Linked DNA regions of Homo sapiens: all the other regions are reported to be linked to region 2. The links are microRNA targets in miRTarBase. Many come from high-throughput screens and were not tested one by one. Region 2 holds a microRNA gene; each other region holds the end of a gene's coding sequence.

Region 1 (7,121 bases), not on the chromosome of region 2:
TCTCTCCACCTGCAGTATCTGCAGGGGGAGTGCCACCTATGCCGGTCATCTGCCAGATGGTTCCCCTTCCTGCCAACAACCCTGTTGTGACAACAGTCGTTCCCAGCACTCCTCCCAGCCAGCCACCAGCCGTTTGCCCCCCTGTTGTGTTCATGGGCACACAAGTCCCCAAAGGCGCTGTCATGTTTGTGGTACCCCAGCCCGTTGTGCAGAGTTCAAAGCCTCCGGTGGTGAGCCCGAATGGCACCAGACTCTCTCCCATTGCCCCTGCTCCTGGGTTTTCCCCTTCAGCAGCAAAAGTCACTCCTCAGATTGATTCATCAAGGATAAGGAGTCACATCTGTAGCCACCCAGGATGTGGCAAGACATACTTTAAAAGTTCCCATCTGAAGGCCCACACGAGGACGCACACAGGTACCAGCCACTTCTTATATCTTTAGTGTTTAAATGAAGAGATTTTGGCTGTGATCACACATTTAAACCCAGGATGATAAGGAATAACTTGCCTTTAGCTAGTTTAGAGGATGGTATTTACCAGTGCAAGGTCCTCCAAAAGGCTGTATTGGAGGCCGCTCACGAGTGCCATAATCCTTGCACTTTAGGAGACCAAGGTGGGAGGATTGTTTGAGCATAGGAGTTCAAAACCAGCCTGTGCAACATACTGAGACCTCATCTCTACAAATAATTTAAAAATAAGTATGTAAATACTTTATTGATGTGCTTTTGTTTCAGTCTCTCAAATGATGATTCTGTAGATGTCTGAGTAGTTACTTTAATAAGGTATCTTTAAAGCCTTTGAATCATAGTTAAAGTCAGGAAGTCTTTTCATTTTTGGCTTTTTTTAAGGGATGAAAAAAAACTGCTCTGTTGCCCAAACTGGTCTCAAACTTCTGGGCTCAAGCTATCCTCCTGCCCCAGCCTTCTGAGTAGTTGGGACTACAGGTGCCTACTACTCCACCCGGCTGCCTTATTTCATGTGGGGAAGAGTTTTGTAAATGTGATCAAGTGACAAGTTGAAATTGGAGCAATACATATCTCATATTCATTTGACAGTTTGATTTATTAGCTTTTATTATTTAAAATGTATCTTCTCATATACTTTTAGACAGAATTGAACATATAATTTACGGCAATCTTATGCATAATAATGATTTGTATGTCTTTGTTTTAGGAGAAAAGCCTTTCAGCTGTAGCTGGAAAGGTTGTGAAAGGAGGTTTGCCCGTTCTGATGAACTGTCCAGACACAGGCGAACCCACACGGGTGAGAAGAAATTTGCGTGCCCCATGTGTGACCGGCGGTTCATGAGGAGTGACCATTTGACCAAGCATGCCCGGCGCCATCTATCAGCCAAGAAGCTACCAAACTGGCAGATGGAAGTGAGCAAGCTAAATGACATTGCTCTACCTCCAACCCCTGCTCCCACACAGTGACAGACCGGAAAGTGAAGAGTCAGAACTAACTTTGGTCTCAGCGGGAGCCAGTGGTGATGTAAAAATGCTTCCACTGCAAGTCTGTGGCCCCACAACGTGGGCTTAAAGCAGAAGCCCCACAGCCTGGCACGAAGGCCCCGCCTGGGTTAGGTGACTAAAAGGGCTTCGGCCACAGGCAGGTCACAGAAAGGCAGGTTTCATTTCTTATCACATAAGAGAGATGAGAAAGCTTTTATTCCTTTGAATATTTTTTGAAGGTTTCAGATGAGGTCAACACAGGTAGCACAGATTTTGAATCTGTGTGCATATTTGTTACTTTACTTTTGCTGTTTATACTTGAGACCAACTTTTCAATGTGATTCTTCTAAAGCACTGGTTTCAAGAATATGGAGGCTGGAAGGAAATAAACATTACGGTACAGACATGGAGATGTAAAATGAGTTTGTATTATTACAAATATTGTCATCTTTTTCTAGAGTTATCTTCTTTATTATTCCTAGTCTTTCCAGTCAACATCGTGGATGTAGTGATTAAATATATCTAGAACTATCATTTTTACACTATTGTGAATATTTGGAATTGAACGACTGTATATTGCTAAGAGGGCCCAAAGAATTGGAATCCTCCTTAATTTAATTGCTTTGAAGCATAGCTACAATTTGTTTTTGCATTTTTGTTTTGAAAGTTTAACAAATGACTGTATCTAGGCATTTCATTATGCTTTGAACTTTAGTTTGCCTGCAGTTTCTTGTGTAGATTTGAAAATTGTATACCAATGTGTTTTCTGTAGACTCTAAGATACACTGCACTTTGTTTAGAAAAAAAACTGAAGATGAAATATATATTGTAAAGAAGGGATATTAAGAATCTTAGATAACTTCTTGAAAAAGATGGCTTATGTCATCAGTAAAGTACCTTTATGTTATGAGGATATAATGTGTGCTTTATTGAATTAGAAAATTAGTGACCATTATTCACAGGTGGACAAATGTTGATGTTGTCCTGTTAATTTATAGGCGTTTTTTGGGGATGTGGAGGTAGTTGGGTAGAAAAATTATTAGAACATTCACTTTTGTTAACAGTATTTCTCTTTTATTCTGTTATATAGTGGATGATATACACAGTGGCAAAACAAAAGTACATTGCTTAAAATATATAGTGAAAAATGTCACTATATCTTCCCATTTAACATTGTTTTTGTATATTGGGTGTAGATTTCTGACATCAAAACTTGGACCCTTGGAAAACAAAAGTTTTAATTAAAAAAAATCCTTGTGACTTACAATTTGCACAATATTTCTTTTGTTGTACTTTATATCTTGTTTACAATAAAGAATTCCCTTTGGTATATGGAATGGTCATTGCATTTCTTAAAAACCATTCTCAACTCTCACCTTGACATTGATCACTTATATTATCCAAGGACTTAGTGTCTGAATTTCTCTAAGGGTCTCATTCAAATTTAGAACTGTAGGAGTATGTCTTTAACATGAATCCATTTAGAGAGTATACAAAGTGAGGCCAAATATCTATTTGGTGAGGTAATATGTGAACCAGCCAGTTCTAAGAAAACACATTTAATTTTTAAACATTGTTTTTTATTTTTCAAGACACAGTTTCACTCTGTCACCCAGGCTGGAGTGCAGTGGCATGATCTCAGCTCACTACAACCTCCACCTCCCAGATTCAAGTGATTCTCCTACCTCAGCCTCCAGAGTAGCTGGGATTACAGGTGTGCACCACCATGCCCGGCTAATTTTTATATTAGTAGAGACGGGGTTTCGCCGTGTTGGTCAGGCTGGTCTCAAACTCCTGACCTCAAGTGATCCGCCCATCTTGGCCTCCCAAAGTGCTAATTTTTAAGCATTCTTGAATATTTTGATATTTAACAATATTTTGATATTAACGAAATCTTGTTAAGTAGTATTCAAGTTAAAGGGAACACCACAGTGAATAATTACAAGCAATGAAACTGCCGTGGCAAATGAAAAGAAGGCTGACTTATTAAATAGCGAGTAAATTGCTTACCTCTAGAAGTTAGACAATTAAGTGATACCTTAAATGCAATAAACATATTGGTACTTAAGCCTCATGAAAAGTAATCCACCTCTGAAGAGAAACACTTGTTAGTCACTCATCAGTGGAAGGAACTAAGGGCTGTAAATGCTACTTGGTGTATAGAGTATAATTTTGTAGATTACTATTTTAGCTTGCACTGAAATCCCCTTGTGGTCAGGAGAACATCTTCCACAATGCCCAACTTAACCAGTGACCTAGAGTCTGCCTCATTGTTGAATAAACACCATGGTAAGGGACCGTGTACTCACTTGGCAGCAGTTGTAGGACAGGTTTCTCAGGACATCTGTACACCTGTTGCTACTTTTCTTGGAAACTTAATACCACATGAGTATGACATAGCTGCTGGAGAGAGGCTTTGCCATTCTGGCCTCTGGTGTAGCTTTGGTGTTGGGCACCTGGACCATCCTCTTGCTTTAGAGCTTTTCATGGTGGCAGGTGTCCAGAAGTGGGAATGGAGGAAGATGACTGAAATATTCTCTGCCTCCCCCAATGCTCAGTCCCTTGTAATGATGTGGCCCATGAAACTATGCCACCCGTTGGCCGTATTCTTTGCAGTCCTAGTTGGTATCTGAGATCTTTCCTTAGGAATCTTGTAAATAGAGTTACTGTTTTTGAGTTGAACGTTGAAGCAGGATCTAATTTTTTTTTTTTTAGACAGAGTCTCACTCTGTTGCCCAGGCTGGAGTGCAGTGGCATGATCTCAGCTCTCTGCAAACTCTGCCTCCTGGGTTCAAGTGATTCTCCTGCCTCAGCCTTCCCAAGTAGCTGGGATTACAGGCGCCCAAAATTAATAAGTTAAACTTGGTACAATACTATTAAGTTTTCATAAGGATACTAAAATGGAGAAAAGTTGAAGCAGAAACACCTTTTTACTAGCTTAATTTTTTACTAGCTTTTCTACTTTTTCCTATTACAGGACCTAATCCAGGATCTCAAATTGCATTTAGTTGTCATGTCTCTGCAGCCTCCTCCAATCTGTAGTAGTTCCTCAGTCCTGTCATTTGAACATTACTTGTCAGTTATTTTGCAGAATGTCCCTTAATGTGGGTTTGTCTGATGTTTATTCATGATTAGATTGAGGCTATGGGGTATGTGGGAAAGATGCCCCAGAGTGATAATACCCTTCTCAGCACATCTTACCTACGAAAACATGGTGTCCATATGCACTCCTGATGCTGCTAACCTCACTCACTTTGGCTAGGGTGATATCTGTTGGAATTTTCCACTGTAAATTTACCATTTTTCTACTTATAATTATTAAATATGTAGAGGGACATACTTTAAGATTATGCAAATAACCTGTTTCTGCTTACACTTTTCCCCATTTATTTTAGTGTCCTTATGGAAATGTTGCCTGGGGCAATTATTACTGTGATATGCTAATTTCCTCATTATTTATTAAGTTGGAATTCTGTAAGAGTTGTTTCTTCTCCATTTATTCAGTTTTTTTAAATGTCAGCATGGACTTGAATATTTATCTCATTCTTTGAGTTGTAACACTATACTTAATTATTTTGTGACTCATTTGTCCCACCTTTGGCCCTTGTTAGCTCTTTCAGTATTCAACCACTTTTAATAAATGAAGATGAAAATTTTATATGGTTCAACCTATCATTTCTCACTGGAACGAGAGCTGTTTGGTATTAGTAACTACTTTTTTAAAGTGTTTTCTACCTGCGTTGCTGCCACCCTGTCTAATCCAGCATCTCTCACTCAAGCCAGTGCAGCCACCCCTAACTGGCCTCCCTGCCTCTGTCCTGTCTTCTTACTATCCAGTCTCCTCACAACAGAGTCTTTTGAAAATGCAAACCTGATAATGTCACTTTTCTGTTTAAAACACTTCAGAAATCTCCCAATGCTCTCAGAGTCAAGTCTAGGTTTTATAACATGGTCTAGAACAGTACTGTCTAATAGAAATATAATGTGAGCCATATGTAATTTGAAATTTTCTAGTAGCCGCATCAAAAAAGTAAAAAAAAAAGTTTATATTTAAAATTTGTATTTAAAAAACATTTAATTTAATGTTCGTGGTAATCTTTGAAATCTAGTCTAGTCTCAGTAGGGACTAGCCTCATTCCAAGTGCTCTGTAGCCACAGGTGGCTGCTGCAGTGGACCGAGCAGGTCTAGAAGACCGTGCACGTTTAGGCTTCTACCAACCTCCCACCACACCACTTTCCATCTTGTACTCTACATTGTGTCCAAGCTCTGAGCCTTCCTATGTGCTATGTCTTCTGCTGGGAATGTTTTCCCTGCCCCCCAACCCTTTTTTTCCCCCCCAAGACATAGTCTCACTGTTGCCCAGCCTGGAGTGCAATGGTGTGATCTCGGCTCACTGCAACCTCTGCCTCCCAGGTTCAAGTGATTCTCCCGCCTCAGCCTCCCGAGTAGCTGGGATTACAGGTGCCCACCACCACACCTGGCTTATTTTTGTATTTTTAGTAGAGAGGGGGTTTCATCATGTTGACCAGGCTGGTCTTGAACTCCTGACCTTAGGCGATCCACCCACCTTGGCCTCCTAAAGTGTTGGGATTACAGGCATGAGCCACGCACCCGGCCTTCCCTGCCCTTTTACCTTGACATTTCCACTGTCATAATAATCATTATTACCCTTTACTTCATGTCTTTTTTCCCCTGACTGTAAAACTTCATGAGGAAAAGCACCCTGTGGGTCTAGCTCACTGCTACATCACCAGCATCTAGCACAGTCCCTGACACGTAGCACAGGCTTAACAATTTTGCCAAACTGAAAGTTGAGCCGTGAAGAGGCCTGTGCAATTTTAGGGAGGGAGAACAACTAAGAAGTTGTTACATGCAGGATATAGAAAAAGGAGACGAGAAGCTGAAGATTGCCTTTTTCTTGTTCCCATTATTCTTTGCTAGTGCTGGAAGGACCATTTATTCCACCTTCCAGACTCTTAAAGAGTCTCATGGCATTTGAATTCTCTTCATTGCATTTTTAAGGGGGCAGGGAAGAAATCTGATCAAGACACATACACTAGGCTCACTAAGTCCCTTCGTGTGAGTCTAATGCTTCAGCCTGGAAGGGCTGAAAAGTGTTGCCTTGGCTCTTACCCTACCCTTTCTCTTTAGAAGACTTTCAGAATAAGGCAGAGACAGAAATGGAGACTTCCATCAAGGGCACTGGACATCAGCAGAGCCCTGGAACTAGATGAGATCTTCTGGGCAACACCTTAAGGGAATTTTATTCTGATGCCTTAATCCAGTCCTGGCATTTTGCTGACCAACTTAAGCAGAGCTTGAGAAATGATAAAGTTGATTTTCGAAGAGCACTGCCTCTAATTTTTTACACAGGTAACTGTGCCCTGGAGGTGTCAGTATCAGGGAAAGATCAAAAGATCAAAATGATCAAATTAAAAGACCTGGTATATTAAGGTTCTCCCAGAAAAATAGAACCAATGGAACAAACAGAACATGTATACATATGTATTCCTTATATGAAACTGAATAAAAGGAATCAGGTCATGTAATTATGGAGACTGACAAGTCCCAAGATCAGCAGTCAGCCAGCTAGAGACCCAGAAGAACCAAAAGTGTAGTTCTAGTCCAAATGCCAGCAGGTTCAAGAACCAGGAAGAGTCTATGTTTCAAT
Region 2 (7,121 bases):
TAAGCAAGAGAATATGTATGCTTTAATCATTTGAGAAAAATGAACTATTGCTTGAAAAGAAAAGAGCTAAATATGTTGAACTTTTCCCAGTCCAGCTGAAACTGCCCTTCAGAGTTTACTGTGGGGTGGGGATGGGGGTTGTGATTGTCCTTTTCAGGTTGAACTTTTTGTATTATTGTACATCTTATGTTACAAATCCTTCTACAAGCTGCACTTAGCTCATATTACTCTCAGACATTGAATAATTGGTTTAATGTGAGACTACTTTCTGGGAATGATTCATTGGTATTTATTTGACATGTTTTAGTGATAATATTGAATATATCCACTGGAAAAATCCAAGAGGAACCTTTAAATGAAATCATTTCCATGGCAGAGTTGGGGGCAAGAGAGGGAGTTGGAGTTGATTTCTCATCGTGTGAATCCCACTCCATCAGCACGTGGAAACTGAGGAAGAGGGAAGGAGTGGAGAAGAACCAGACGAGAGACACGGTTCCAGATGCTTTCCCAAGTGGCTGTGCCCTCCTCCTATTTGCGGAGGAATGGCTTTGGTCTGCACCTGCAGCTCTGGACGGACTGCCTGGGGCTGGGGCTGTGGAGGCGGACGACTGGGGAGTCTGATGGGGAGGTGGGTGGCGGGGGTGTTGACAGGAAAAATCCGACTGGCGGCCTTGGAGCAGTTCGAAGAGAGGGCGTGTCCTTTGCCTGTTGGAATTCCAACCCTGGCGACTTTCAGCTACACCCTCCTCCCTCCCCTAGCCCCACACAAAACAAAAATGCCTCAGAGCTTCAGTGTAACTGGAGCAATACCAGCTGATTCTAACAGTGTGGCCCAGCAGCGCCTGCTGGCTGGGAGCAGGGACAGAAAATGCCTGAGGCTCCGAGGTGGGAGCCCAGGCTGGGATTCAGGATTTCGCTGCTCCCCGTTCAAGGCCTCTGGAGAATGTTCCAAAGGGAGGTGTGGATGTTTCATTCAGTACTTTGGAGGGAGAAAGAAATGGGTTCTTTCTCTGTATTCTCTAAGATAGATTTGTTCTTAATCTTGAAAAATCATTTCTAGCCATTTTAGAAAAAAAAAAACATTAGTACAGTATTAGTAAATATGGATGGGATAAAATTTTTTTTACATACACATAGGATTCAATACATTTTTCATATGCTGACCTTATAAGTCATATTGTTTTGAAATTATATTTATTAAAAATGTGATTAGAGTTATATTCATTCATGTTTGATTCTCTTTTAAGAATTATTCTCTATTAGTACTTTTCTTACATGATTCAACTTGGACTTATTAGAGAAATAAACTCTGGCACACTTTCTCCAGTCATATTCGTTGAGCCTGTATTTATAAAATTGGCATTTATTGGACCTCTGCTGTGGATACTATTTACTTCTTTTGAAATTTGTAAAAGAAGAAAAAAAGTTGAGCTTTTGTGATGACACACAAATTCAAACTAAATTTGATGCTTCCAAAGTATATGGCAGAGACGGATGCAACTATTCGTTACCAGAACAGTGGCGTCAGGAAGCCCCGTGCAGTGGGTAGGGGACACCTGGTGCTGCCTCCACACCCTGCCCCTGCCAGCCCCTGTTGTCCTGAGCTTCCGCAGCTCCCGCCTGACGTTTGGCTCAGAGTCGTCCACACTGCTCGTGTCCCTCGGCTGTGGAGCAGGGCCACAGTCTCCCTGCAGGGTTGTTTGGAGTTAGCTGAGCCAGCGTGTGGAAAGCATAGGTACTTGACAGACCACCAGTGCCTCCATGGAGCACCACCATTGTTAACTGCAGGCTTCTCTAGCCATTTAGAATACATATGAAGACTCAGAAAAACCAGTTTTACTTTTAGGAAATTACATATTCATGGCTTGAGCTATAGCCACTGACTTTGTGCTTGGAACAAAATACATAATTCTTTTTGGTTCAAAAGATTAGATTCAAATTATTGGTCATCAGAAACTGAAGTTTCCTAAGGCATATCACACGTAATTCAAGGTTGCTTTGATGTGTTATTCTGCTAATCCACAACCATGGAAGTTCCTGGTTAGTGCAATGTTTCATGCTCTGACAGCTATCTTTAAGATGTTGTTTTTGGGTTGCCAGGTGTTCATTTAAACACACTGGCCATGTGTTTGCACACGCACATGTGCATACACATAGCCACTGCGGAGCGCCAGGAGCTGTAACTGAACGTGGACTTGATAGAGCAGTATGCGATGTTTTTGTCTTCAGGGCAAGCTCTTGATGCATAGCTTCATGTGACATCTCGTTTATAACAGCCTGAGGCATCAGTAATCTTTATAGCAAGAATTCTAGTGCTGTGTTATGCATACCAAGCTTACCGTTTATTCTGCCCAGTAAATACATGGCTTTTATGGAGTCATAAATCATGACAGTAGGAGTCATACCTCTCCAAAAAAGAAGAGATTTAAATCTTTAGAGTTAACAAGATTTAATGTAATTTAGACATTATTCTTACTTAGAAGTACCATTCTTATTTAAAGGCAGTATATCTCATATCTTTAAAGATAACTTTAGAAACTTACTGCCAGAGAAACAAATATTGATTAAGAGCACACTGTGTGCCAAGCATTATGCGAGGTGCTGGAGAGAAGGAAGGGGAAGAAAAGGTCCTCACCCTCAAGTAACTTGAAGCTTAGAGGGACAATGATAAATAGTAAAAGATTCTAGAGTCCGGGCATGGTGGTTCACACCTGTAATCCCAACACTTTGGGAGGCTGAGGTGGGCGGATCACCTGAGGTCAGGAGTTCAAGACCAGCCTGGCTAACATGGTGAAACCCTGTCTCTACTAAAAATACAAAAAGTAGCCGGGCGTGGTGGCGCATGCCTGTAATCCCAGCTACTCGGGAGGCTGAGGCGGGAGAATCACCTGAACTCGGGAGGCAGAGGTTGCAGTGAGCCGAGATAGCATCACTGCACTCCAGCCTGGGCAGAGCAAGACTCCGTGTCAAACAAACAAACAAAAAAGATTCTAGAGCAGTCTGATCAGGGTGAGGGTTCCGTACTCTTCTTGTGCCATGAAGCAGGAGGAAAGGCCTCCTGAGGGAGCTGAGGCTGCACGAGGATGAGCAAGGTTTCATAATGTCCTCCAGAGGCCAGTTTACCAAGCTGCATCAGCTCCTCCCTCCCAGCCACCCTGCCCTTCATAAAGCTCTAGTTTTGTAGGGGATGGGGTGGGATGGGGTCACACCTCAGCTGCCGGCATGAGCTAAGGGACCATATAACAGTCAGCACTGTCCATCGCTTGCTTCTCTCTCTTTCTAATTTACATACAGCTAAACACAGATTTTTAATGAATGGCTGATAAGTTTTGACAGATGTCTGCACCTGTGTAATTATCACCCCAGTCAAGGTACAGAGAGCACCTCTATCCCCTCAGAAAGTTTTTTCCATGCTGGCTGTTGTGTGCCAGTGTGCCAGGAGAGCATGGGGCAGGGGAATGATGGCCCTAAGAAAGGAAGGAGGAACAGGGGGAATCTTGAATTACATTCTTTCCCCACGTGGAGATAGATTTGTGCTAATTCCACAACGTGGAACATCCTCCTTCGTTTGCTTAGACTTCCCTGGGAGCAGTAGCCCATGTACTGGTGGCCTAGCTCAACTGTGGCTTGGTTCTGGGCCTGTAAAGCCATCTTTCCCACCTACAGATGACATTCCCTATCTTCATCATGTGCTTTTAGTCAGGTTTCCTGCGGGCCAGATGCATCTGAGAGTGTGCCCTCATTAATATGGGACTCTGTGTATGTCCAGCACATGTGGGGTTTATTCACGTACCAGTGATTATTATTCAACATCGTTCCCTTTAGTGCAGCAAGCACTTTCTGAGTGCTTACCATGTGCCACTTTCTGTGAACCTCTGCAGTTCAACAGTGGAGTCAGAGGCAGTCCTTGTTCTCAAGTAGCTCATGATCTACTGTGGGAGACAGATGGCTAGATGATAGGGTGTAGTCATATCCCATTATTTCTGATACCCCAAATCTTGATCAGAAGCCTTGATCAGAAGCTAGGAAGGCTTCTGATCAAGATTTGTGGTGTCAAGAATAACAACGATTACAGCAATAGTAGTTGCTTATTGAGTGTGTCCTGTGTCCTAGGCACAGTTCTGAGTATTCGTCTCTTACCTCATTTAATGATGATACCTCTCCCATGTTGCAGATGAGGAGACTGAGGGCCAGAATGGTTCAGTAGTGTACCCAAGGCCACACAGCTGTTAAGTGGCATGAGAAAGAAAGAAACTTTCATTTTAAGCCTCTTAGATTTTTGTGGATTGTTTGTTACTGCAGCACGAACCAGCCCATCCTCACTGATAAGAGCCCCAGTGTGCGGAGTGGATTCCTGAGCCAGTTAAAAGGTTGCTACAGCAGTGGAGGCCTGGTTGGAGGGTGGTGATAAGCCTGGAAATAAAAGGACATATGTGAGAGACAGTAATTTGATAAAGAGTAATGAAAGAGGAAGCTTTCTTTCAGGTAGCTTATTCTGTTTCATTATTGTTGTTTTCCTTTTGGGAAAGAAGTTGAATTTTCATTGTTGGCTTATGTTTTCAAGGGTGACCTCAGTATTTTATTTTATTTTATTTTTTTGAGACGGAGTCTTGCTCTGTCGCCAGGTTGGAATGCAGTGGCGTGATTTCGGCTCACTGCAACCTCCACCTCCCAGGTTCAGGCGATTCCCCAGCCTCAGCCTCCCAAGTAGCTGGGACTTTAATGTTTTTATATTGGTGATTTTGAGCAGAGACTGTATTACCATCTAAAACACTACAAGCCTAGCATGTAAGCTCCATGTCTGTTTGCTCCTCATTCTCTCCAGGGCCCCTGGCACAGTTCCGGGCCCACAGTGAGTGCTCTGTAAACTTTTAGGGATGAACAAATGAATATTTTTAAATCTGTTCATTGTTTTCACAGTTAAACTTTTCTAAGCACTTATGTAATACTGTGTTTACTTAATTTTCATTTCTCACCAACCTTTATGGAAGACTAGGTGATAACTGGTTAAATTGTAATACAGTATCATAGGTATAATCTCGAAAAGGTAAAAATCAAATGTAACGAAGCATTATAATCCAGTGACTGGAACATTTTATGCAAGCCTTTGCTCTTTATTTATCTATTTTTTTATCATACACTTCTTCCCAGTTTTTGCTTAGTCCTTGTTAGCAGTTACATTAAAATCTGTTTTAAGTTCCACCTCAGGGAATATCAAAAGTTGGTTACTTTTCTAAATGGGCCTTTAATTAAAATTTTAAAAAATTAGACCATTGTGTTAGATTTTTTAAAATGTTGGCTAAAACAGAAAAGGTTGATTTCAGTGCAGTTGGGCTGAAACTATACTTAAATAGATTAAAGTATAATCTGGCTTTTAAAAAAAACACATCTGACTGGGATGAAGTAGTTGTGGTCTTAACTGAAGCAGGTGAATGGACCATATTCGCCTTTAAGAGCCTTCTGACTCCCAGGTTTTCTGATTTTTAAAAACTTCCTATTTAGTCATATGTTTTTACTTCACTTTATGGTTTAAGTGAGCCAACCAACAAAAGTTACTCATAAAAGATAGTATTTTACTTGTAACAATTGCAGAAAAAGTGAAAAGCTTGACATTACAGGTAGAAAGGAAGTCAGTCTCTGTCCCCTGTGCGTTTCCGAGACTGTGTTTCTATTTATTTGCCCTTTGTCTGTTTCCCCTGACCAGCGTGCGTTTCTTTCTGGAGGCGCAGGGACCTCGGCTTATTTTTCTCTGTCTTTGCATTGCTTGACAGAGGGCCTGACCCAGGGTAGGCACTCCCGCTTCATGACTACATCTCATTTTTTATTTATCTTTGTTATGATAGATAGCAGATAAAGCAGTTGATTTCAGTCAGAAGCAGACCACAGCAGCAGGATTCTTTCCACGGTGCATGTTCTGGCTGAGTGTTGGTGGGCTCCACCCTAGCCGAACCTGTGTCTGCACACCTGTTGTGTCTTCCTGGGAGGCTCCCAGGCATGCTCCTGTCTGGCCAGGGTGCTTCCTCCTCGCTCTCCAGCTGGCTGAAGGGAAGCTGGGCAAGAGTGTATGTGTTTAGGCCACAGGGAGAGCACAGACTCCCAGAGCATGAACCAAGGGGCTTCCAGGCCTCAGGGACTGCCTCCTGGTCCCCCAGAGGCCACCTCACTCTTACTCCTGTCTCCAGGCTGGTGACCTCACATGGCCCCAGCCATCTCTCCACATCCTCCCCTCCCTGCTGTGGAGCCCCCACTGACAGATGCCTTCCCCCTGTGTTTTGGCTCCAAATTCCAAGTGAGAGTAATTGCGTGGCTTCCCTTGGGTCTGTCTCCATCCCTGTTGTAGTCCCTCACAGCCCAGACTGTGGACTGCAGAGGCATCACCTAGGGGCTTGTCTGAGATGCAGAGTCTCAGGCTCTACCCCAGCATCCGGAATCAGACCATCCTCAGGGGATTGGAATGCACAGAAGCATTTAAGAAGCGCTTTGTAAAGCCATGGCCTCTCCTGCGCAAAGAACTGCGTGGTCCCTTTTCCTGGAGTAGGAGGCTGTGGCTACAGCATTTTCATCTGGAAGGAGGCCTAGGAAATGATGTTTCTGTGGCCTTCCTACCCCCTCTCCCTCACCCTGGTGACTCTCAGTTGGGGAGGGCTGCCGGGCAGTGTTCTGGGGGCAGGGAGGTGGTGGGAGAATCTGGAGAGCTGGAGAGAGTGAGGTGGTGAGGTGGGCCTGGCGTGTTCAAGGCAGAGAAGGAAGGAACGAGGGAACTGGCTGGAGAGACTTGGAGGGCTCCTCAGAGATGAGGCTGAGTGGGAGTGAAGGTTTCGTCAAGGTTACGAAAGGCCTTTGAGTTCAAGCTGAGGCCTTTGGACTTGGCCCCTCGCTCGCTTTGCCAGGAGACAGGCGGCTCCTTGCCTGAGCCTCTGTGCTTGCGCTCCTCTCCCCAGCCCCAGGTCTGCAGAGTGTGTGGCTGCTGCACCCTCAGGTGTTTGCTCATCTCCTCACAGGTCTTTCCTGCCCCCTACCTGTTAAAAGTCGGACCCCACCACGCCCCCCACCTCTCTGTCCCTGCTCTTTGGGCCCTTCCTTTTCCCCAGGTTGGGCTCTTGCCTTTTTCTCTGTTCCTT
Region 3 (7,121 bases), not on the chromosome of region 2:
GTGTGAAACTTGTACTAGTTTGCTTTATGTCAGCTAAACTAATTGACAAGTTGATAATGGATTATATGTCTTCTGTATCTACAGGCCAGTATTAAAGATTATCTTTAATTGAAAAATCTACAGTATCACTATTTTATGTAACTTCTCACAGATATGTACTATTTGTCATAAAACAAGATTTCTAGGTGCTAGATCTAAAAGAACCCAAAAGGCTTTGGATAAGAGATTCCTTCTTCCAAAAAAAGTTGGAGATCCCTGTTCATAGTCTCAAAGCTATTAAAATGTCAGCATACATGCTGATATTTACTTGTGAGAGAGGGCTCAGTGAACTTTGATTCGCGTTAGTAGCTAGAGATAAACCAAGTATAATGATTATTTGTATTTATTTTTAGTTCAATTTTCCATTTGTTGAGACTTACACTGTTGAGGAAGTAAAAGTTCATCCAAGGAATAATACTGGTGGATATAATCCAGAGGAGGAGGAGGATGAAACTGCTTCAGAAAATTGTTTCCCTTGGAATGTAGATGGTGACTTAATGGAAGTTGCATCAGAGGTCCATATTAGGTAAGTCTATTTATTTCACCGCTTATTGTCAACCAGTAAACATAAATCTAATATTACAACGAAAGCTCTCTTCTCTGAACTATCAAAGCAGGCAGTTGGTTAGTTTTTAAAAAATCAGTAAATCAGGGAAGCATAAAGAGACATGCACAAATTTCAATAAATAAAAAGCAACTTTACATTTATTCAACTGTTATGTAGACCCAAGGCATTTTCTTTGGTTATGCGTGTCTACATTGGCTTTCTAATTTATTGTTGTGCATAAACTACAGATAATGTCTACAACTTCCATTTTGGATTTTTAAAAATGGATCAAGATCTTAAATCTTTTAGTGGAGCCATCTGAATAGTAAAGTGTTAGATTTTTATCCTTCCATCTTAGTTTCCTCTCACTCATAATTACTGTAACATGTTTTGTTCAGTAATTTGCTTTTATTAGGCCTTTACAGAGCATTCAACTTCCCTTGGGAACAATTTTACATAGCAACTGGTATAAACAGGTTTAGGAACCTGCAAACGCATTCTTGGTAGGCATTGTGACACTCAGTGGTTAGAAGAAGCATGCAGGGGTGCCCACTAGACATGGGTGTTCTAGAGGCATAACTGACTGTTTTACAGAGGTAATGGAGAGCATTGGACAATCAAGGAAGTCAGTTAAGGAGGTTTTAGAGCAATTATTGTTGTTGATGATTTATCAATCAGACCTTCTCAGTTTTCTAGATTACAGCTCTGTTGGGAATGCTGTGTTTGTTATCAATTTGTATTTGGCATTGGCATTGTGTACCATACTTATTAGGTGTATGTGAAAAACAACAAAATAAGTTGATGAAATAATGTATTTTCTTTACAGATTGCATCCAAGACTTATCAGTCTTTATGGAGGAAGCATGGAAGAAATGATTCCAAAGTAACATGTAATTGTTTCTAAAAGAAATGTACAAACTAGAATTTTAATATAAAGAAATGTGGCCATGCTTTAAACCTGTGGTCCCCACCCTTTTTGGGACCAGTTTCATGGAAGACAATTTTTCCGTGGATGGGGGAATGGTTTCAGGATGAACTGTTCCACCTCAGATCATCAGGCATTAGATTCTCTTGAGGAACATGGCACTCTAGATCCCTCACATACCAGTTCACCATATGGTTCGCACTTCTATGAGAATCTAATGCTGCTGCTGATCTGACAGGGGGAGGAACTCAGTAATGCTCCATTGCTCTAACCTCCTGCTGTGTGGCCAAACGGATATCCTAATAGAAATTGATGTTACTAACAATTAGCCTCTAGGGCTTTAAAAGTCAAGATGAAATATCAATTCAAATTCTGTTTTTAGATATCAATTCAAATTCTTTTTTTTACAATGTGTTTATTGGACACACAAAAAAACTTTGCAACCATCATAATACATCAATATTTAACCTAGATAATTCTGAAATAATTTGGATTCTTTCATTTTTCAGGATTTGAGCTCATCAATTATGTTAAATTTCCTATATTCTGTTACAAATATAATACAGATTTCATAAGTCTGCCTTGATTCACTGCTCCCTAATCCAGAGCAGTTAAATTTCAAAATCACATAGTTATATAGCCTACCTGCCAAAAAAGAATAACCCATCCCTGTCTTCTTAAAGTGGTAGGGTTTTAAAATTCATGATACAAGTAACAAAGTAAGTTGATAACAAATACTATTTTGAACTGGGCAAAATCTAGCCCAATATGTAATTGTGTTCCCCTTGTATCTGAGAGGCCTGTGTTGGACAACCATAGTACTCTGCTTTCACTGTGCTCAGATAACCTGAAATATATAGTTGTTTCTGAGTAGTTCTGAGTAGGAAAGAACCAAATGTAAATTTCCTTAGAGACCATCCTGGAGAAGACAGTTCTAAATCGGGGCTTGATTTTTCATCTATGATCCTAGATGTTCTCCTGAAAGAATGACTAGCCTTTTTATAACGATACAAAGTTTTTTAAAAATACATAAATGTCATAAAGTTTATTCCTGTGTATACACACTCTGGGTTCAGGAGGTTTTGTGCTTACATTTCACTACTCAAATGCCTTCGCAAATCTCAGAACATTCCTCACCATCACTGCAGGCCTGTGAACAGATAACTTTCATCAATTAGGATGGCTGGCTAGTGGCAGGGACTTCATATAAAGAAATCTTTCCCAGAATTGTTTTTCCACATTGCCTTCTAATTTGATCACTCCCTATAACAGATGTTCAAAATTCGGCCACAGCTCTCTTATGAAGGCAGAGTCAGATAAAATGATATTCTGCAATTATCTAGATCATAAGCATAAAATAAATATTACAAAAATGATTGTATTTAAAGAAATTTTTTAAAATCCAGAAAGTCATTTAAAATAGAACCTCATATAGTATGAACAAACTATAAAAATATTTTACATTTCATGAAAATTTTGCTGTCGTCTCATTTATATTCACTGTATACAAATTGAATCAGTATCTTTCAGCTAAATTTATGAATTTAAATTTATGAATTTTGTTTCTTCGTTTCCATGTAAGGTAACACTTATACTTGTAAAGGGTAACAAAGAATTACATCCAAGGAAATAGTTGTGTGATAGTCAATATTTTACATAGTACATAATACATATGAAGTATAGGCCCCCTAGTCTTTGCACAGCTTTGATTTTAAAGTTATTAGTGAGGTATGGTTTCTGTATTTTCTAAATCAGCGTGTATCAGGTAAAGTGCAACACTCACAATCTTTTGTTTCAGAATATAACAAAAGATTTGAAGATTACTCCTGGGTATGCTTGATAAAGGTGTGTTATAGGAAGAATAGATAGGAAGAATGGTAAATATATACCTACATAAAAACACATGTATATATACAGAAAGAAAGATGGTGAAATCCATAATTATAAAAAAATAATTATCCAGAAGTAATTTCACTAAGCTCAAACCAGTGTACATGTTCAGTCTGAAGTTTGCCAGTTTGGCCTATAATACTATAATATTCATAGTCTGCTGAAAAAAAATGGTTGTTGGAACACAGCCCGTAGGAAATGTATTATAAATAAAGGGCTTTAAAGTGATAATGGTCCACTCGTTAGAAAATTTGGGAACAGCTCTCTAAAAAATTATATTTTTAAAGAACATATTTTGAACAAGTATCAAAGATGTATTTGAAATGAACCTCTGCCCACCCAGTGGGGTTCATTTTACTGAGGCAAGCACATATGGTAAGTAGTATTTCAAGTCTAAGACTTCTCCAGTATAATTTAACTCAGTTATACTTTCATTTCAAGATATCTTCAAGGGCTTACTTTTCTTGAATAAATTGAATGCTTTAGTGTTTCTCTACCCATTTAAAAGCTGAGAGATTATCTTTGGCTGTATTATTACCTTTGCAGTTCTTCTATCTCAAAGAGTAATCATTGCTGAGATTTTCCCCTTGCATGAAGACATAATATGTCACAAGATCATGAGTAAAAGAAGTCCAAACAAAATTCATTTTTTCTTGTAAACAGTGTCTTTTAAATTTCTTTACTACAACCTGAGTCTGTTTTCCATTCTCTCAATTTGAAAGAAGTCCTTAATCATCATTGCTTTTACTGTTGATATAACTCCAACTGTCTCTTCTGTTTTCTTCTTGTAGGATAGATTTGTATTGTCTTTTAAAGAAGCCAGCCTGAAAATAGCATAACATAATCACTAGTGTATAGTTATGAACACTCTCTTATCTACTATACTCATTTCTAATATCTAAGCAGTTAACACCAATATTTCTTAAACTGCATCCCTTGTAACATCAGTCATAAAGGTTTAACAGAGGTAATCAGTAAAAATTAGTGGGGACATACTGGGTTAAAGAAACATTTTTGTTTTTAATGCAGAAATTCTCAGTGATACACACCACATTCTCTCCAAAATTGACATTCCGTGTAATTTGCAATCTTTTCCAAATGGTTTTTTAAAAGGAACGTCTGTCTTTCAAAACAAATTAAGAATGCATATTTTTCTAGAAAGACTTTGGTGTTGAAGAGAAATGTGAGATCAGTACTGAGCAACATAAAAAGTTAACATTCAAATAGTGAAATATTTAAATCTAATAACTTGGAAGTCAAATTGGCTTTGAGAAAATGTCATTTTTAGTAGACTAATGTTGGTAATTGTTAAATGCTTACCTTCCACATAACATATGAGATCAATAGAAGTACAATAAGTCCAAGTAGCAAGCTACTTGAAATAATCACTATGGTGAAATAACGTTTGGGTCTTTGATGATGTAGTCCTTCCAGTAGAACCTACGTGAGTTAAGAAAAATAAAACTCAAAAACCAAAAAAAAAAATCAGTTTAAAACGTTGCTTATATTTCCTTTAAAGCCCTGCCATAATCCCCAGTAGTATTTAGAACTGCCCAGCCCATTTTCTTGCTGGTTCTAATATAATTGCAGGAAACACTGGTAACTGTTTAGCAGAAACAGTGAGTGTAATGGGCTGTATCCATGACTTTTCCTCCAATCTATTCAATTCTCACTGCTGCCCAATTCACCTCTCTGAAAGAACTGCTGTATTGTTCCCTCCTGCCAGTTGTGGAAAATGCCAACTCTCAACCAAGTATTGGGGGCCCTCCATGAGCTGGTCACACTCTACTTTCCCAACTCAGTTACTCAGAAGGAAGTAATTATAGACACCCTTGAAATGTGTTTTCCTATAATTTTAATGTAGCAGTTAAGAGGGTAATCTTACATGCGCAACATTCTCATCCTTGTTTAGTTCAATTACTCTTGGATTTGGCTCTGGAAAACCTGTTGCTCTTATTTCAAACTTGAGTGCTGAAGTCTCATCCTGTTTAATAAAAGAAGGATCACCATAGCCTGGTTTATTTCATAAAGACATAATTTATCAGGATCTTTACCTTCTAGCTAGAGGTTTTCACAATTTACCTTCCCCAATTTATTTCACCACTTAAAATTAACTGCAGTGCCTCCTTTGGTTCCCAAAGTGTGGTCTTGGTATTAATTTATATAGTATCATTTTATTGAAATCCTTTGATTAAACAGCTACCTTGCAAATAACTTGATTTAAATATTAGACTACAGAAAGAGGTAAGTTACCATTTACCATTGTTCTCCACCCCACCACCGCATATTGAATCTATCTTATTTGGGCTTTTTATTTCTTTCTAAATTAAATACATTATAGAATTCAAATATAAAATCAGTGGATGAACTCAGAACTTTACTATCTAAAGCAAGGATTTTATAACGCAGAATCCATGAAGCTTGGGGATCTGTAGAAGGGCTTTATAAATTCTAAGAATCTTTAGGAGATGTTTTCATGTGTGCATTTGCTGAGGGAGATGAGAATATATTTAGTCAGATTCTTAAAGAGGGATATGACCTTTAAAACTATTGTGTAAATGTTATTTAACATTTTAGAGCCAAAAATGACAAGCTTCCTATAGATCTAGAGCAGTGGTTCTCAGCAGGGAGGGTTTTATCACCTAAGGGACAGTCAGGAATGTCTAAAGAAACTGTCAAGTGTCAGAACGTGGGAGGTGGTACTACCAGCAGTGAGCGTATAGAGGCTGAGGATGATACTAAATATCCTACAATGCACAGGACAACCCCCCAAAACAAAATTATCTGGTTCAAAATGCCAATTATGGCCACTGATGGAAAACCTAGACCTAGAGAAAAAGATAAGGCAAACTGCAAAAGGTTAAATGACTTGCTGATGGTTCAATGACTTTGCTTTTAGCACAGTTGAAACTAAAATGGATATTTCTTCTTTGCCTGTCTAGTGTATCTTCCTCTTAAGCACTGTTTGGCAATTTCAAGAATTCCACTTGAACATAACAGCTGCCATTTCCTTTGGCTTCCTATGTTCCATGAACTAAGTGCTTATAAAAATCATCTCATTTATCCATATTGAACAGATGAGAAAGCTGAAAAACAGAACTCCACATAAAACTAGTTTCATCTCAAACTACTCCTCATAAATATACATGCTCCTTTGTAGGAAAAAGTCCAAGATATATTTCATTATTTTTAAAATTTAAATATGTTTTTGTTGTTGAATTTTGATTTTATTTGATTTTATGAAAGCCTTAGTTTTTCTTCTTAGCTATATTTTTAAAATAAAAGGGCTTCAATAAAATTCATCATCCCTTCATGCTAAAAACTCTCAATAAACTAGGTGTTGATGGAACATATCTCAATAAGAGCTATTTATGACAAACCCATAGCCAATATCATACTGAATGGGCAAAAACTGGAAGCATTCCCTTTGAAAACCGTCACAAGACAAGGATGCCCTCTCTCACCACTCCTATTCAACACAGTATTGGAAGTTCTGGCCAGGGCAATCAGGCAAGAGAAAGCAACAAAGGGTATTCAAATAGGAAGAGAGGAAGTCAAATTGTTTGCAGGTGACATGATTGTATATTTAGAAAACTCCATGGTCTCAGCCCCAAAACTCCTTAAGCTTATAAGCAACTTCAGCAAAGTCTCAGGATACAAAAATCAATGTGCAAAAGTCACAAGCATTCGTATACAATAATAGACAAGCAGAGAGCCAAA

What was found. The annotated mature microRNA hsa-miR-4762-5p reads CCAAAUCUUGAUCAGAAGCCU and lies in region 2 at 3,992-4,012, shown strand. An mRNA with a match to its seed (bases 2 to 7 or 8) in the 3' UTR can be bound and repressed. Matches are read on the target gene's strand: a 7mer-m8 pairs with bases 2 to 8, a 7mer-A1 pairs with bases 2 to 7 and ends in A, and an 8mer does both.
Region 1: the mRNA of KLF10 is a reported target of hsa-miR-4762-5p. Seed matches in the 3' UTR shown: 8mer at 2,186-2,193.
Region 3: miRTarBase lists CERKL as a target of hsa-miR-4762-5p. Seed matches in the 3' UTR shown: 7mer-A1 at 2,021-2,027.

Annotation. Positions count from the first base shown.
Region 1 is chr8:102,644,442-102,651,562 of GRCh38, reverse strand. KLF10 (KLF transcription factor 10) reads left to right here. Exons shown (of 4, transcript NM_005655.4): 3 at 1-414; 4 at 1,172-2,779. The coding sequence ends at 1,431. Among named protein-coding and RNA genes, the nearest start is that of KLF10, 7.7 kb to the left of the region's middle.
Region 2 is chr22:45,756,541-45,763,661 of GRCh38, forward strand. MIR4762 (microRNA 4762) reads left to right here and starts at 3,984; the gene lies at 3,984-4,058. The region is part of intron 9 of ATXN10 (ataxin 10); the gene reads left to right. RefSeq lists enhancers at 1,127-2,125, 6,111-6,704 and a silencer at 6,269-6,563.
Region 3 is chr2:181,532,536-181,539,656 of GRCh38, reverse strand. It overlaps CERKL (CERK like autophagy regulator), which reads left to right. Exons shown (of 13, transcript NM_201548.5): 12 at 393-565; 13 at 1,413-2,985. The coding sequence ends at 1,473. It overlaps ITGA4 (integrin subunit alpha 4), which reads right to left. Exons shown (of 28, transcript NM_000885.6): 26 at 5,287-5,385; 27 at 4,722-4,841; 28 at 717-4,225. The coding sequence ends at 4,130. Among named protein-coding and RNA genes, the nearest start is that of ITGA4, 79 kb to the right of the region's middle.